Linked DNA regions of Homo sapiens. The protein of the gene in region 2 interacts with the protein of the main gene of each other region in a pairwise test. Each region holds a gene or a part of one and is shown on either strand. Other genes may lie near its edges.

Region 1 (3,049 bases), on a different chromosome or scaffold from region 2:
CAATGGCACGATCTCGGCTCACTGCAACCTCTGCCTCCTGGATTCAAGCAATTCTCCTGCCTCAGCTTCCCGAGTAGCTGGGATTATAGGCATGCGCCACCACGCCCTGCTAATTTTGTATTTTTAGTAGAGTCAGGATTTCTCCACATTGGTCAGGCTGGCCTCAAACTCTCGACCTCAGGTGATCCGCCTGCCTCGGCCTCCCAAAGTGCTGGGATTACAGGTGTGAGCCACTGCGCCCGACATCCCAATTTTTAAAATAGTTATACTATGTCAACATTTTCAGAACATACTGGTATAGCATACTGTACTTTCTTCCTTTTATCCCCCATTTATTCTTAGTTCTTCAACTATATATTTAACACTTGCCCCCAGTTTTGTTTTGTTTTGTTTTGAGGAGGAATCTTGCTCTGTTGCCCAGGCTGGAGTGCAGTGGTGTGATCTTGGCTCACTGCAACCTCCGCCTCCCGGGTTCAAGTGATTCTCCTGCCTCAGCCTCTCGAGTAGCTGGGATTACAAGTGGGCACCACCACACCCGGCTAATTGTTGTATTTTTAGTAGAGATGGGTTTTGCCATGTTGGCCAGGCTGGTTTTGAACTCCTGACCTCAAGTGATCCACCTGTGTTGGCCTCCTAAAGTACTGGGATTACAGGTGTGTGCCACCGCGCCAGGCAATTGCCCCCAGTTTTTATTTGATGGCTCTGACTGTTTCTCATATCTGACTCTTTAATTATGAATCCAGGGCATAGATTAGTATCTCCATCTTGTAAGGATGCAAAGAAGCCATGAAAATAAGTAATATCAACTCCTGAGGATAAAACGTTACTTGACTAGAGTTAGCTTTTTAATTGTAATCATTTATAAACTTCTTTGTTCCTTACATATAAGCATAGTCATAACCATGGTACCCAAAATTTTCTATAAGTTATTGTAACTCCTTAAAGGTCTTGCTACAGTTCTTTTATCCAGTACAAATAATTGGGAAAATGTAAAGCTGAATGAAATCTAGTGAGCCTCATATCCTCCCTTTTAGATATTGATTTTAAGTTTGCTTTTCACAGCTGCTAAAAAGTAACAACTGATTTTTAGTTCCACAACCTCTCTTTCTTCAATTTAGATGGATCATACAATAAAGCAAAATCTGGCTGGTTACAGTGGCTCACACCTATAATCCCAGCACTTTGGGAGGCTGAGGTGGAGGGTCTCATGAGCCCAGGAGTTCAAGACCAACCTGGGCAATATAGTGAGACTCTTTCTATTTAAACAAAAACAAAAACAAACAAACAAACAAACAAAAAGCTGGGCATGATGCACACCTTTAGTTTCAGCTACTAAGGAGGCTGAGGTTGGAGGATCACTTGAGCCTAGGAGGTCAACACTGCAGTGAGCTATGATCATGCTACTGCCCTCCAGCCTGGGCAACAGAGCAAGACCCTGTCTCCAAAAACATAAATAATTAAATATAAATAAAAATAAAGCAAAATCTGTTGGGAAACGAGAAAAAGGAGAGGAATTTTTCAGGAATAATCATAAAAAGAAATGATCATCAGACTGAAAGTCCAGAGCCTGAGAAATGAAAACATATTTTTAAGCATTGGTGTTGACCATGCAGACAAACTTTTGTTAATTCAGAGCGATACAAAAGGCACTTTGAATCTATAAAACTTGAAAAAGTTAAAAATTGTATGTCGGATAAAGCTTTAAGTCATCTGTCACTATTAACCTCAGTGCAGCAATTCTGACTCCTGTGCCTGGATTCCTTTTATGATAATTTTGCCACCTACAGGACAGATTAGGTGCTGGTCGCCTGAATTATTTTGTGTTCTGAATTATTTTGAGCTCTAAAATGGTAAAGTACAAATACTCATTGTTTTACTGTGCCTTTGGCCTTTTATAAAAAGGTATTTATAATTCGTTGATAAAAACCAATATTTGAAGCTGTTGATTACCAACAAAAAAGTTTCACTCTCTTTATAGTGCTTCAGGATACAACTTTTTCAGGGCCTTATTAGAGAAAAACTGATTCACATGTTATTCTTCTAAAGCTAAATTATTAAAATGTAGGTTGAAAGATTGGATTGATTGTGAATCTACACTAAAGATATGGTTCCAGGCAGACCTCCTTAGAGACCTCCAGGCAGACCTCCTTACTGTCTTCAGTGATGTTTAATTTCATTACTGTTACTGGGTGCCAAGTGTCTTTCATTTGGAAGTGAACTTACTCCAGTTATTGAATGTTTATCATATCATAATTTGCATTTTTCCAACATTGAAGGTATTTTAAAAAGTCACTAAGAGATTCATTCTTTTATTATTCAACTACAAAAAAATAGTGTAATGATCAGAATTTAAAATGTGTGATTCTTTTTCTTCTGTAAGTATGTATTGCTATGATAAATAAAAAATGGCAGGACCATTGTTTTTATTAAAATATCTACTGTGTCTATTCTTAAACATTAATCTTGATTACTATTTTACTCAAATTTAATAATGCTTTTTAAATTTTCATCATTGAGCAACATCTATCACAAAGGTGTACATTCATTTAGGCCAGTACTTCTCAACTGGGGGTAATTTTGTCTCCCAGCAGACATTGGCAATGTCTAGATACATTTTGGGTTGTCCTAACAGGGCTTGGGTGTGCTAGTGGCCTGAGATCTAGATACAGGTCAGGGATGCTGTTCAGCATTCTACAGTGCACAAGACAGCCCCTTGCAACAAAGAATTATCCTGCGCAAAATGGCAATAGTGCCTAGGCTTAGAAACTCTGATTTGGTCAACATAATACTGAGCACTATGGATTTATTATTTGTTCTGCTAGCAAGAGGCTTCACTGAAATTTAAAAGGTAAGATGTAGATAGATTCTTCCCCCTGCTAAATCCATACTAAGTTTTGAATGGCTGTAGCTGTCATGCGTACCCATATGTCATGAGCATATTAATTTTTTGATTTTTTGCAAGAACACATACAGGACAGAACACAAGTGTTACTGACGAAACCTCTGATGCCTGTTTGCTGAGTGACGTTCTAGATGATTGAGGGAACCC
Region 2 (3,654 bases):
GGTGGCGACGCCTCCACTGTGGCATCCTCGGCACCGCTGTCGTGCCCGCTGTCCGGGTCGTACCTGCAGAAGCGGGTGTTGGGGACGAGATTGTTGAGGGATGGAGTGACGGATGAGGTACCAGAGGGAGACGCTGGAAGGATGGAATGTTAAGGAGCAAGAGGTTGAAGGGATGGATTTTGGGTGTTGAGAAGAAAACGCTGAAGAGGCAGGGGTTAGAGTATAGGGTCAGGGGTTTGGGTTTGGTGGAAAGAGAGCACTGAGAGGAAAGCACATTGGCAAGAGAGGGGCAGGCGGACAGGAAAGACATGGCATTGGTATAGCCCGCGGAAAGGCATTGAGAAAAATGGTCTTGGGGAAATCATGCTGGGGAGATGGTTCTGAGGATTAGAGGACATTGGAAGAATCCGAGATTAGTGACTAAGAAGAGAAAGGATGTTGGGAAGGTGGGTGTCGGGAGAGAGATGAGGGTGGATTGGTGTCACAAATGAAGGGTGTTAGAGGTATGCGGGGTTGGGGACAATGGGGTTTAGGAGGGGTTTGTGTTGGGGAGAAAGCATTTTGAAGAAATAAGGTGTTGGGGGATAGAGTGCTGGGGAGAAGGCTTAGGATGCAAAGCATTAGTGGGAGGGTGTTAAATAGGGAGTTGGGGCCAGGCACAGTGGCTCACGCCTGTAATCCCAGCACTTTGGGAGGCCAAGGTGGGCGGATCACGAGGTCAGGAGATTGAGACCATCCTGGCTAACACGGTGAAAGCCCGTCTCTACTAAAAATACAAAAAATTAGCTGGGCATGGTGGCGGGTGCCTGTAGTCCCAGCTACTCGGGAGGCTGAGGCAGGAGAATGGTGTGAACCCGGGAGGTGGAGCTTGCAGTGAGCGGAGATCGCGCCGCTAGACTCCAGCCTGAGCGACAGAGCGAGACTCCATTTCAAAAAAAAAAAAAAACAGGGAGTTGGGGAGAGGAGGGTTATGGAGGTGGGATGTTTAAGGGAAGAATTTTTTTTTTTTTTTTTTTGAGAAGGAGTTTTGCTTTTGTCGCCCAGGCTGCAGTGCAATGACACAATCTTGGCTCACCGCAACCTCCACCTCCCGGGTTCAAGTGATTCTCCTGCCTCAGCCTCACGAGTAGCCGGGGTTACAGGCATGCGCTACCACGCCCAGCTATTTTTTTTGTATTTTTAGTAGAGATGGGGTCACTCCATGTTGGTCAAGCTGGTCTCGAACTCTCGACCTCCAGTGATTTGCCTGCCTCAGCCTCCCAAAGTGCTGGGATTACAGGCGTGAGCCACCGCATCCGGCTAAGGGAAGAATTTTAAGATACGGGTGAAGGAGGTCTTGGAGAGCAAAGGTTTTATGGAGAAGGTATGTTGGAAATGGAGTGTTAGGAAGAAAGGACACAGATGCTTGGAGAGATGGTGTGTTGATCCAGAGTGACAGATGGTTGGAAGGAAGCAGAGATGGCTCCCTCTTCTATCATCCCTTTCCCTGACCACACGACATGCTCTGAAAATCAGTCCTCAAAAGCCCTTTTGCTGAGCCCATGCGTCTCCTGGACACAGGCCTCCCAGCCTGGCTTCCAGGCTCCTACTACTTCCTCCTAATCCCCTCCCAGCCCCACCCTAGCAAGTCTGTGCTCCACTTGCCACCCCTTCTGTGCCCCTCACTCCCACCAGGACCCCCACACCCCATCCCTTCCAGAGGGGTCTGACCTGGGGCTGATCACATCGGGGGCACCCTGGAAACTTTCTTGAAGCTTGCTCTCCAGCCCGACGCCCACCTTGACCAAGTAGGAGGCTGGGTCTACGGCGCAGGCCCAGTAGCTGCGGCCCTGGGTCACAGCCACGTCGCCCAGGACCACATCCACACTCAGGTGGCAGCCGGTCAGCAGCCGGTCAGCAGCCAGCAGCAGGGGCAGCCCTGGAACACTCCGTACTGCTCGCTGGTCCTTGCTGATAGCCAGCCGCTCTCGGCTTGCGCCCCAGCGGCTATCGAGGAAGAAGTGCAGGACTGGAAGGAGGGAGAGGGTTGAGATGGAGCAAGAACTTCAGGGACAAACACTGGCACTGGGGGCTGTGAGACTGCAGAACAGGGAACGCGTTGCAAGGGGGTTCAGTCACCAGGAACAGGCAGGGGGTTCAGGAGAACAGGACATGGGAAACTGGAATGGGGGGCATGAGGAAAAAAGAAGGGGGCATTCCAAATGGGCGTGGGACCCCAGAGAGTTTTTGTGATGGCAGTGGGCACAGAAGTCAGTGCTCCGGACCTGGCTGACTCATGGGGCTCCCTCGAACCCCTTACTTGTGGCCAGCCCCATGGACAGTTCCCACTATTCTGTTCCACCTGGTGACATTCCCATCACCATCAATCTGTGCCTTCCAGCCCATACTCTGGGTTCACACCTGGCCCTTATACCCAGCCCCTATTTGGGTGGCAAGGCTTCCCTCTTATGCCCACCCCCTGGAGTCCGAACTATTTTCTAGTCACTTTAGTAACATTCTTGAGCCCTAACCATGAGCCGGACACTGTACTCAGACTCCCATTGATCGTCTCAAACCAGTTGAATTCTTGCAACTCTATGAGGTAAGCATTATCATTTTTTAAAAATATATATATGTTTTTGAGACGGAGTCTCACACTGTTCCCCAGGCTGGAGTGCAGTGGCGCAATCTTGGCTCACTGCAACCCCTGCCTCCCAGGTTCAAGCCATTCTCCTGCCTCAGCCTTCCAAGTAGCTGGGATTACAGGCGCCTGCAACCACACCCAGCTAATTATTTTCATTTTCATTTTTAGTAGAGACGGGGTTTCACTATGTTGGCCAGGCTGGTCTTGAACGCCTGACCTCGTGATCCATCCACCTCGGCCTCCCAAAGTGCTGGGATTACAGGCGTGAGCCACTGTGCCCAGCCAAAAATAATTTATTTTTTACGTATTTTATTTACTTATTTATTGAGACAGAGTTTCACTCTTGTTGCTCAGGCTGAAGTGCAATGGCGCGATCTCGGCTCACCGCAACCTCCGCCTCCTGGGTTCAAGCAATTCTCCTGCCTCAGCCTCCCAAGTAGCTGGGATTACAGGCATGCGCCACCACACCCAGCTAATGTTGTATTTTTAGTAGAGATGGGGTTTCTCCATGTTGGTCAGGCTGGTCTCAAACTCCCAACCTCAGGGGATCCACCCACCTTGGCCTCCCAAAGTGCTGGGATTACAGGTGTGAGCCACCTTGCCTGGCCTTTATTTATTTATTTATTTATTTATTTTTCCGAGACGTCGGAGTCTTGCTCTGTTGTCCAGGCTGGAGTCCAGTGGCGCGATCTCAGCTCACTGCAACCTCCGCCTCCCAGGTTCAAGCGATTCTCCTACCTCAGCCTCCCGAGTAGCTGGAATTGTAGGCACGCACCACCACGCCTGGCTAAGTTTTGTATTCCTAGTAGAGACGGGGTTTCACCATGTTGGCCAGGCTGGTCTCAAACTCTTGACCTTGTGATCCGCCCGCCTCGGCCTCCCAAAGTGCTGGGATTACAGGCATGAGCTACCTCGCCTGGCCTATTTATTTTTTTAGAGATCGGGTCTCGCTGTGTTGGCCAGGTTGGTCTTGAACTCCTGGCCTCAAGCAATCCTCCCTCCTTGGCCTCCCAAAGTGCTAGGATTACAGG

What was found. The genes of interacting proteins can lie anywhere in the genome.
Region 1: the proteins of TRIM46 (region 2) and RNF125 interact in a two-hybrid assay, tested with the Homo sapiens proteins (one large-scale study listed by BioGRID and IntAct).

Annotation. Positions count from the first base shown.
Region 1 is NC_000018.10:32,070,759-32,073,807, forward strand, and holds the end of RNF125 (E3 ubiquitin-protein ligase RNF125), read left to right. Parts: 3' UTR 1-2,461; downstream 2,462-3,049. UniProt on the Homo sapiens protein: E3 ubiquitin-protein ligase that mediates ubiquitination and subsequent proteasomal degradation of target proteins, such as RIGI, MAVS/IPS1, IFIH1/MDA5, JAK1 and p53/TP53.
Region 2 is NC_000001.11:155,180,206-155,183,859, reverse strand, and holds part of TRIM46 (tripartite motif-containing protein 46), read right to left. Parts: intron 3,426-3,654; coding exon of another isoform or gene 3,358-3,425; exon of another isoform or gene 3,181-3,357; intron 2,009-3,180; coding exon 1,711-2,008; intron 64-1,710; coding exon 1-63.